Linked DNA regions of Homo sapiens. The protein of the gene in region 2 purifies or fractionates together with the protein of the main gene of each other region. This does not show direct contact. Each region holds a gene or a part of one and is shown on either strand. Other genes may lie near its edges.

Region 1 (3,651 bases), on a different chromosome or scaffold from region 2:
ACCATCGCGCCCAGCCTATGTCATGTTTCAAAAGGATCTCTTCAGTAGAAGAAGATCAATAAAATGACCAGCGTGTTCTTCTTATACCTTTAAGGTTATGTTTTTAAATACTTTAATCTGGCTGGGTGCAGTGGCTCACACCTATAATCCCAGCACTATGGGAGGGTGGGGCGGGCGGATTGCTTGAGGTCAGGAGTTTGAGACCAGCCTGGCCAACGTGGAGAAACCCCGTCTCTACTAAAAATACAAAAAATTAGCCGGATGTGATGGCACACCCCTGTAATCCTAGCTACTCAGGAGGCTGAGACAGGAGAATCGCTTGAACCCAGGCGGCAGAGGTTGCAGTGAGCCAAGATTGCACCACTGCACTCCAGCCTGGGTCCATCTCAAAAAAAAAATAAAAATGCAAGTATGAAAAATGAAGAGTTATCCTAGCAGTTGTAAGATTAGTGGGAAGTATAACATTTATAACAACAAAAAGGATAAACTGAGAAATAAGTTAGAATGGCCGCAGAGGGCCTGGGTTCTAGATGGGGGTGGGGTAGCTGCTCTGTTGAGGGGCGTGCATGTAGGGTCCAGCCCCACAGGGTCAGTGGGTTTTCTCCCTGTGTGCGGAGACGAGAGAGTGTAGAAATAAAGACACAAGACAAAGAGATAAAAGACAGCTGGGCCGGGGGGACCACTACCACCAAGACGTGGAGACAGGTAGTGGCCCCGAATGTCAGGCTGTGCTGTTATTTATTGGATACAAAGCAAAAGGGGCAGGGTAAAGAGTGTGAGTCATCTCCAATGATAAGTAAGGTCACGTGGGTCACGTGCCCACTGGACAGGGGGCCCTCCCCTGCCTGGCAGCTGAGGTAGAGAGAGAGGGAGAGAGAGAGACAGCTTATGCCGTTATTTCTGCATATCAGAGACTTTTAGTACTTTCACTAATTTTGCTACTGTTATCTAAAAGGCAGAGCCACGTGTACAGGATGGAACATGAAAGCAGACTAGGAGTGTGACCACTGAAGCACAGCATCACAGGTTGATGGTTAGGCCTCCGGATAACTGTGCGCGGGCCTGACTGACGTCAGGCCCTCCACAAGAGGTGGAGGAGTAGAGTCTTCTCTAAACTCTGCTAAGTAGTGGGTGTTTTTCCTTGACACTGATGCTACCGCTAGACCATGGTCTGCTTGGCAATGGGCGTCTTCCCAGATGCTGGCGTTACCGCTAGACCCAGGAGCCCTCTGGTGGCCCTGTCTGGGCATAACAGAAGGCTCGCACTTGTCTTCTGGTCACTTCTCACTGTGTCCCCTCAGCTCCTATCTCTGTATGGCCTGGTTTTTCCTAGGTTATGATTGTAGAGTGAGGATTATTATAATATTGGAATAAAAAGTAATTGCTGCAAACTAATGATTAATGATATTCATATATAATCATATCTAAGATCTATATCTGGTATAACTATTCTTATTTTATATACTTTATTATACTGGAACAGTTCGCGTCCTCAGTCTCTTGCCTCGGCACCTGGGTGGCTTGCCGCCCACACGTGCAAGCAGATGTGGGCAGGCGGAGGAAATTATGGATTTAAGGTGGTTATAGTTCAACAGAATGTTCTTCCTTTTTGAAGAAATTTTTTTTTGTTTTGGAGACAGGGTCTCACTCTGTCACCCAGGCTGGAGTGCAGTGGCATGATCTCGGCTTATTACGACCTCCACCTCCTGGGTTCAAGTGATTCTCCTGCCTCATCCTCCCAAGTAGCTGAGATTACAGGTGTGTGCCACCATGCCTGGCTCATTTTTTTGTATTTTTAGTAGAGACGGGGGTTTCAACATGTTGGCCAGCCTGGTCTTGAACTCCTTACCTCAAATGATCTGCCCGCCTCAGCCTCCCAAAGTGCTGGGATTACAGGTGTGAACCACCACGCCCGGCCTTGAAGAAAATTTCTATGTTTATCCAAAAAAATAAAATAAACTGGAGAGTAGCCAGGAAAGTTCTGTTGAGGAAGTCTGTGGGTGGCAAGCCACTCAGGCACCGAGGCAAGAGACAGAGGACACGGGCTGTTCCAGTATAATAAAATATAAAACAAGAATAGTTACACCAGATATAGATCTTAGATATGATTATATATGAATATCATTAATCATTAGTTTGTAGCAATTACTTTTTATTCCAATATTATGATAATCCTCGCTCTATAATCATAGCCTAGGAAAAACCAGGCCATACAGAGATAGGAGCTGAGGGGACATAGTGAGGTGTGACCAGAAGGCAAGAGTGCAAGCCTTCTGTTATGCCCAGACAGGGCCACCAGAGGGCTCCTTGGTCTAGCGGTGAAGCCAGTGTCTGGGAAGACGGGAAGACGCCCGTTACCAGGCGGATCGTGGTCCAGCGGTAGCAAAAGGTGTCAAGGAACAACACCCACTACTTAGCAGACCGGGAACCGGGGGGCGGGGGGGCGGGGGTGGGGGTTGGTGTCTCCCTTTCCCCGGGGGAGTTTAGAGAAGACTCTGCTCCTCCACCTCTTGTGGAGGGCCTGACTGATGTCAGGCCTGCCCGCAGTTATCCGGAGGCCTAACCATCTCCCTGTGATGCTGTGCTTCAGTGGTCACACTCCTAGTCTGCCTTCATGTTCCATCCTGTATACCTGGCTCTGCCTTCTAGACAGCAGTAGTAAATTAGTGAAAGTACTAATAGTCCCTGATATGCAGAAATAATGGCGTAAGCTGTCTTTGTGTCTCCTCTCCCTCTCTGCCTTGGTTGCCAGGCAGGGAAGGGCCCCCGTCCAGTGGACACGTGACCCACGTGACCTTACCTATCATTGGAGGTGACTCACATTCTTTACCCTGCCCCTTCTGCCTTGTATCCAATAAATAACAGCGCAGCCCGACATTCAGGGCCACTACCGGTCTCCGCGCATTGGTGGTAGTGGTCCCCCAGGCCCAGCTGCCTTTTCTCTTGTCTCTTTGTCTTGTGTCTTTATTTCTACACTCTCGTCGCCGCACACAGGGGGAGACCCACTGACCCTGTGGGGCTGGTCCCTACAGAAGTCTGATGAGGAGGTACTTGCTGGGATGTGTTTTAAACGTGTTGAGGTCACAGTCACTGAAGAGTGTGCTTTAGACCAGAGGTGGTCATGCTGGTCACTAGAGTGGGGCCTTGCGGCAGTGAGACCACCACGGATCGGAGGCCTGGCCGCACCCTGTGTGGTGAGGGGCTGGGGAGGTGGTGCTCTCTGGTTGTCAGCGGAGGGAGTAGTGATCGGTGCCACCTTTCTGAATGGCAGTTTTAAGTATGCTGCTTGTGGATTTTAAATGTAATTTTTGTACTTTTGTTTTCTTCTCAGTCCAGTCAACCTGCAACCAAAACGAGACTTTTTAGCACGCTTGATCCTGAGCTCATGTTAAACCCAGAAAACTTACCAAGGGCCAGTACCCTGGCTATGACAAAAGAATATTCCTTCCTGCGCACCAGTGTCCCTCGGGGGCCTAAGGTGGGCAGCCTGGGGCTTCCGGCACATCCTAGGGAGAAAAAAACTTCCAAATCAAGCAAAATCCGGTCTCTGGCCGATTACAGAACTGAAGATTCAAATGCGGGGAATTCTGGGGGAAATGTCCCGGCTCCCGATTCTACCAAGGGTTCCCTGAAGCAGAACAGAAGCAGTGC
Region 2 (3,651 bases):
GGAGGATTGCTTGAACTAAGGAGGTCAAGGCTGCAGTGAGCTGTGATCGTGCCACCGCATTCCAGCTTGGGTGACAGAACTAGACCCTGTCTTTAAAAAATTTTAAAAAATCCCCACAGAGTCTGAATTCTATCCCATCAGTGTGCCTCTCCCATGAATTACTGTGTCCTTTCCTCATGATGGCATCTGGCGCCATATGGTTAAAGCCTGCTTGCTTGTCTGTTTTCCTCAGTGGACTCGGAGCTTTGTGATTCACACTCACATTGCATCCCCAGGACCTAACATAAAGGGTCTGCTTAATATGTTCTAAGTGGGGTTAATACTTTGTAGAAACAAGCAAAAAAAAAAAATTTGTTAAAGCTGAAATTCATGTATCTGAAGAAACTGTATCTTCAGTGTTACCAAGAAGCCTCTAGTGAAGCTGCCCCAGTCCCTCACCAGTGATGGATGGGCACAGCTGAGCACAGTGTATTTTTTCCCAGAGTTTGTCCCTTTTGGCTCAGTCCTGAGCTCTTTATCTTTCACAGGCTCCCCTGTGAGGAATTATGTTCTGAGAGAAACCGTTCATGAGATGGATTCTACTTTGTTTCTCACTCAGGCCATGGAGAGTAAGTTGCTTGTTGGAGGAAAAAATATAGTAGATCATACGAATGAACAGCAGAAAATCCTGGAGCAGAAACGACAGGAAATTGCAGAGCAGGTAACTTTTCATTCTTTTTCAGGGAGAATGGGTGAGGTAAGGTGTGTTTATGCTGCAGAGCAAACGTCTCATATTAGACTCTCTTCAAAGAGAATGAGAGCAAGGTGTGTCTGCCTCATCCTAGCTGGAGACTCTGATCCTAGCTTGGGGAACCCAGCATAGACACAGTCTCTAGGGCAAGCTGATGAATTTTGTCATGTTGCTCAGAAACGTCGAGAAAGAGAAATCCAGCAACAGATGGAAAGTCGAGATGAGGAGACCTTGGAACTTAAAGAGACATACAGCTCATTGCAGCAAGAGGTGGACATCAAGACCAAAAAACTCAAAAAGGTATGAAAGGAATGAGGCCAGATGGAGTTGCCTTGAGACTTGGGGAAAGGGAGAACTCTACCCTTTGGACAGACACCCTCCTCACCTGCCTCTCCCCTCATTCCAGCTCTTCTCCAAGCTTCAGGCAGTGAAGGCTGAGATCCATGACCTCCAAGAAGAACACATCAAGGAGCGCCAAGAGCTAGAGCAGACTCAGAATGAGCTCACCAGGGAGCTGAAACTCAAGTAAGTGCCAGGCCTTCCATAGTGCCCCCAAGCCACTTGCTGAGTCATTGATCTCGTTTGTTTAGTTAGAAACAGCCCTGGCTGGGCTTGGTGGCCTACGCCTGTAATCCCAGTGTTTTGGGAAGCGGAGGCGGGCAGATCACCTGATGTCAGGAGTTCGAGACCAGCCTGACCAACATGGTGAAACCCCGTCTCTACTAAGAAATACAAAAATTAGCTGGGCGTGGTGGTGCATGCCTGTAGTCCTAGCTACTTGGGAGGCTGAGATAGGAGAATCGCTTGAACCCGGGAAGTGGAGATTGCGGTGAGTTGATATCGTGCCACTGCACTCCAGCCTGGGCGACGGAGTGAGAAAAAAACACAAAAAAAGAAATAGCCCTGAGGACAGGTCCTTCTCCAGCTCATCTCCTGCCACCCCATGTTCTGTTCATTCCTGAAAAAGTCACTTTCCATCTCTGGATCCCATCTGTTAACTGAATGACTTCATCAGGTGATCTCCAAGTTCCCTTCTAACCCTACCTTCTCGAAGCTTTTAAAGATTCTGGTCTTACATCTGTCTGATGATAAGAGGGAATATTTTATTAACTTGACTTTTTATTGTGACAATTTTCTGAATGGTATAATAAATACCCAAGTACCCATCACCCAGATTCAAGGATTAACAAGCTTTTGCCATCTATCTTTCACAAAAATATTTTAAAGCAAATCTTAACCTCATGTTATCTCACTCCTACATACTTATATATATATATATATGATCACAGTGGTTTTTTTTTTTTTTGAGACAGAGTTTTGCTCTATCACCCAGGCTGGAGTGCAGTGGCACAATCACAGTTCACAGCAGCCTGTAACTTGTGGGCTCAAACAGTCCTCCCACCTTAGCCTCCCGGGTAGCTGGAACTACAGGTGTGTGCCACTATGCCCAGCTAATTTTTAAAAAAAATTTTATAGAGATAGAGTCTCTCTATGTTACCTAAGCTGATCTCAAACTCCTAGGCTCAAGCAATCCTCCTGTTTCAGCCTCCCAAAGTGCTGGGATTATAGGTGTGAGCCACCACACCCAGCCCACAATACTGTTTTTAAAAAAGCTTAATTGAGACATACTTCACATACCATACAATTCACATATTTAAAGTGTACAAATCAGTCCGGGCATGGTGGCTCATGCCTGTAATCCCAGCATTTGGGAGGCCGAGGCAGGTGGATCACCTGAGGCCAGGAGTTCAAGACCAGCCTGGCCAACATGGTGAAACCCCGTCTCTACTAAAAATCCAAAAATTAGCTGGGTGTGATGGCGTGTACCTGTAATCCCAGTTACTCAGGAGGCTGAGGCAGGAGAATCTCTTGAACCTGGGAGGCGGAGGTTGCAGTGAGCTGAGATCACACCACTTTACTCAAGCCTGGGTGACACAGCGAGATTCTTGTCTCAAAAAAAAAAAAATTAAAAAATGATAAAGTATACAAATCAGTGTTTTTTTAAAAGCATATATATGCATAGGGCTATAAAACCACCACTACAATCTAATTTTAGAACATTTTTATTACTCTCCTCTAAAAGAAACTCTACCAGTTAGTAGTCACTCCTCATTACCCCCTTTCCCAACCCGAAGTAATCACTAATCTGCTTCCTGTCTCTATGGCTTTGCCTATTCTGGCCATCTCATATAAATGGAATCACACACTGTGTGGCCTTTTTGGCCTGGTGTCTTTTGCTTAGCATGACGCTTTCAAGGATCGTCCATGCCGTAGCATGGATCAACAGATATCTGGTAGTCCCAACATCAATTGTTCTTTATTATGACTGAATAATATTGCACTGTATGAATAGGACACATATTTATTTATTTTTCAGTTTATATACATTCCGATTATTTCTAGTCTTTGGCTATTATGGATAATACTTCTATAAGCATTCATGTATAAGGTTTTGTATGGATGTGTGTTTTCATTTCTCTGGGATACATTCATAGGAGTGGAATTGCTGGGTCATATGGTAACTCAGTGTTTAACTTTTTGAGAGAATGCCAAACTGTTTGCCACAGTGGCTGCACTATTTTACATTTCTACCACCAATTTCTCCACATCTTCTTTTTTTTTTTTTTCTTTGAGACAGTCTCGTTCTGCCACCCAGGCTGGTGTGCAGAGGTGCAGTCTCAGCACACTGCAACCTCCACCTCCTGGGCTCAAGCGATCCTCCCACCTCAACCTCTGGAATAGCTGGGACTATAGCGGCATGCCACCCTACTTGGCTAATTTTTGTGTTTTTTGTAGAGATGGGGTTTCACCATGTTGCCTAGGCTGGTCTCAAACTCCTGGGCTCAAGCAGTCTGCCCGACTTAGCCTCCCAAAGTGCTAGGATTACAAGTGTGAGCCACCATGCCCGGCCTCTCCACATC
Region 3 (3,751 bases), on a different chromosome or scaffold from region 2:
AGGATTCTGAAAATAAAACTGAGGGGTTGGGACTCCCCTGTCAAAATAATTCTCATTTGAGCTCTGAGGCCTACTTGTTTCCTGTGAAAATAGGGGCTGTCCTCTGCTCTTTCCTATTTTCTAAGGGGTGGTTGGTGGCCATGAGACAAACACCTGTTGACACTTGCAAACCACTGTGGGGGAAGGCTTCTGGACCCACAGTCTGTCTGGAGAGCATATGTTACACTTCCTGGAGAGTTACAGATCTTCCCAACTTTGGATCATTTCAGAGCAGGCTTATGAATAACTCCTTTCTGCATTTCAATCTCTCTGGTATGTTAGAAGATAGGCCAAAAATTCTGAACGGGACTCCAAAGATCAACAAGTCAGTCTCTTTTCTACTTAACCAATCTCTAACCCCAGGTATCACAAGACAACCTATCGGGTGAGCCAAGTCAGGTCTGCCCTCAAAACTGAACCACAGGCCGAGAACGGTGGCTCACGCCTGTAATCCCAGCATTTTGGGAGGCCAAGGCGGGCAAATCACCTGAGGTCGGGAGTTTGAGACCAGCCTGACCAACATGGAGAAACCCTGTCTCTACTAAAAATACAAAATTGGTCGGGCGTGGTGGCACATGCCTGTAATCCCAGCTACTTGGGAGGCTGAGGCAGGAGAATCTCTTGAACCCGGGAGGCAGAGGTTGCAGTGAGCCAAGATCGCGCCATTGCAGTCCAGCCTGGGCAACAAGAGTGAAACTCTGTCTCAAAACAACAACAACAACAAACTGAACCATAAAAACATTCCAATGTAAACAGCAGTCTTTAACCCACCATTACCCAATTAGGAAGTAGGGTACCTTACGTTTCTTTGGCAGCTAGTTCCAAAACACTCATCTTCCAGATTCTGAGAATAAATGTCATTTATTGGGATGGGAATGTGACAGGTTATAGTATCGTGGCATGGAGAGAGCGAGCTAGGAGTTGAGAAGGAACATAAAAGCTGTTTAAAGCTACTAACTCTGGGTTGAACTCCAGTTCCAAGTCCTTCGCTGGCTGTGTTAGTTTGAGCAAGTGCCCTGAGTCTCCTGTTATGTAAAATGAGACTAATAATAACGCTATCCCCTTCAAAAGGTGGTTTTGGGATTAAATGATATAAATGCACGTACAATACTTTACACAGTACCTGGCAGACACATACTGAGTATTCATCGTTAGCTATCGTTATTAGCCTTGCGATCCCGTGCAAATCATGTAACCTATTTGGGTACAATTCCGTCAACTGCAGAAGGCCTATCATGGAAACCGCCCTGCTTCCCTCCAGAGTTGTGAGGATTAAGAGAGTGCACTCAGAAAGTCAGGTACATCGAAGAGCGAGACGGACCGCTATGACGTAGGACCTGGGGCTGGCTGAAGGCTTGTGGGCGGGGCTTGGTCTTGAGTTTGCATGCGGCGACGGGATTGGTCAAGGAGAACATTCATGAAGCCCTCTCAAGGGCCCGCCCTAGATCTCACCGCGCTTGCGCACGTTCTGTTTGCTTCGCCGCAAAGTTACGTGTGACCTTGCGACGCGTGTTGCGCTCCGGTCGCATAAGCGTCAGTGCCTGTCGCTGCGGCTGCGTGGCGGGTTGTCCAGGTAACCACGGGAGTTGTCGCTGTCTAGGAGCATCTGAAAGACAGGTGTGCGTCATGCACTTGAAGCACCTGAGGACCCTGCTGAGCCCTCAGGTGAGGAATTGCGTGCCAGTCCCTCCCCCTTATGCTTTATGTTCCAAGAAAAGTGGGGGAACTGAAGTTTAATGATGTTGACCTCCTACTGTGTGCAGAAGGCTGTAAGGGATATAGCGATGATCTGGATCTTGGCCTGTCGATACAGCGTCCAGGAGGCGAGATGCAGGGCTAAGGACTTGTAGCTTTCCTTACATTTCATTCACATCAGTTGTGTACAGGCCCCATGCTGGGGTTCGTAGGAATCCCAAACCACCCGACTTATGTCCCTCCCTTCAGGAGGCTCGTATTAGAGGGTGAGGTGCACATGTAAGCAGCGAGTATGCATGTGCCCATAATTAAATAAGCGCCTTAGGTGCAAGCCCTGAAGGGGGAGTGCAAAGACCGAACCGTGTATTCTGATTCAGGAGAGGCTGGGCACTAGGGGAGGAGCCCTGAAACATGGTGAAGAAAGGGTGGGCTTTGGAGTTAGCACACCAGAATTTAAGTCCTAGCTCCACCACTACTTTCTTATTTTCTTTTTAAAATTTCTTACCTTGTCCTTATTTCAGGTCAACCACTACTTTATTTAACTATTTGAGACAGAGTTTTGCTCTGTTGCCCAGGCTGGAGTGCAGTGGCTCGATCTCACTGCAACCTCCGCCTCCCGGGTTCAAGGGATTTTCCTGCCATAGCCTCCCAAGTAGCTGGGATTACAGACGTGCGCTAGCACGCCCGGGTAATTTTTTGTTTCTTTGTTTGTTTTTGTTTTTGTTTTTTGTAGAGACGAGGTTTCCCCATGTTGCCCAGACTGGCCACCAGTACTTTAAACAAATGACCTGATATCTCTAACTTTAGCCTTTATTATACAATGTCTCGGAGCACTCACCAACTTCTTCATTTGAAAAAACATGAGTACTAATAGCAACTTTAGGGGACTTGGGGAAGAGTTATATAGAGTAATATACACAAAAGAGCATTGTAAACTGAAAAGCAGTGTGAAAAATTGATAGACAAGAGGAAAGGACATTCAAAATTCAAAGGACAGAATAATACAAAGCTAATAAGAATAAGATGTCTGGCCAGGCCCAGTGGCTCACACCTGTAATCCCAGCAATTTGGGAGGCCAAGGTGGGAGGATCACTTGAGCCCAAGATTCCAAGACCTCTACAAAAAAATTTTGACCAGGTGCGGTGGCTCACACCTGTAATCCCTGTACTTTGGGAGGCCGAGGCGGGCGGATCACCTGAGGTCAGGAGTTCAAGTCCAGCCTGGCCAACATGGTGAAACCCCATCTCTACTAAAAATGCAAAAATTAGCCGGGCGTGGCAGCAGCCGCCTGTAATCCCAGCTACTCAGGAGGCTGAGGAAGGAGAATCGCTTGAACCCGGGAGGTGGAGGTTGCAGTGAGCCGAGATCGTGCCACTGCACTCCAGCCTGGGGGACAAGAGTGAGACTTTGTCCAAAAAAAAAAAATTTTTTTTAAATAGCCTCGTGTGGTGGCAAGCACCTGTAGGCCCAGCTGCTGGGGTCACTGAAGTGGGAGGATCTCCTGAGCCCAGGAGGTCGAGGCTGCAGTGAGACGTGATCACACCACTGCACTCCAGCCTGGGTGACAGAGTGAGGCTGTGTCTTAAAAATAAATAAGATGTTCCATAACTGAGTGTGTAATATGTACTGGGGTACCTTAATAAAGAAATTGGGATTATGGTTTATGGATTTACACATACATGGATTTAATCATGGTTCTAGGCCAGGCGCAGTGGTTCATGCCTGTAAACCAAGCTCTTTGGGAGGCCGAGGCAGGCAGATCACCCGAGGTCAGGGGTTCGACACCATCCTGGCCAACGTGGTGAAACTACTAAAAATACAAAAATTAGCTAGATGTGGTGGCGCATGCCTGTAATCCCAGCTACTCGGGAGGCTGAGGCAGGAGAATCGCTTGAACTCAGGAGGCAGAGTTGCAGTGAGTCAAGATCGCACCACTGCACTCCAGCCTGGGTGACAGAGCGAGACTCTGCCTCAAAAAATAAATTAATTAAATAAATAAATCATGGTCCTACCACTT

Evidence for each region.
Region 1: the proteins of KIF3B (region 2) and GOLGA3 fractionate together in Homo sapiens (co-fractionation; one large-scale study listed by BioGRID). This does not show direct contact.
Region 3: the proteins of KIF3B (region 2) and IFT172 fractionate together in Homo sapiens (co-fractionation; one large-scale study listed by BioGRID). This does not show direct contact.

The regions. Positions count from the first base shown.
Region 1 is NC_000012.12:132,808,230-132,811,880, reverse strand, and holds part of GOLGA3 (golgin subfamily A member 3), read left to right. Parts: exon of another isoform or gene 1-94; intron 95-3,331; coding exon 3,332-3,651. UniProt on the Homo sapiens protein: Golgi auto-antigen; probably involved in maintaining Golgi structure.
Region 2 is NC_000020.11:32,315,620-32,319,270, forward strand, and holds part of KIF3B (kinesin-like protein KIF3B), read left to right. Parts: intron 1-598; coding exon 599-700; intron 701-907; coding exon 908-1,030; intron 1,031-1,136; coding exon 1,137-1,255; intron 1,256-3,651. UniProt on the Homo sapiens protein: Microtubule-based molecular motor that transport intracellular cargos, such as vesicles, organelles and protein complexes. Uses ATP hydrolysis to generate force to bind and move along the microtubule. Plays a role in cilia formation.
Region 3 is NC_000002.12:27,487,568-27,491,318, reverse strand, and holds the start of IFT172 (intraflagellar transport protein 172 homolog), read left to right. Parts: upstream 1-1,575; 5' UTR 1,576-1,665; coding exon 1,666-1,704; intron 1,705-3,751. UniProt on the Homo sapiens protein: Required for the maintenance and formation of cilia. Plays an indirect role in hedgehog (Hh) signaling, cilia being required for all activity of the hedgehog pathway.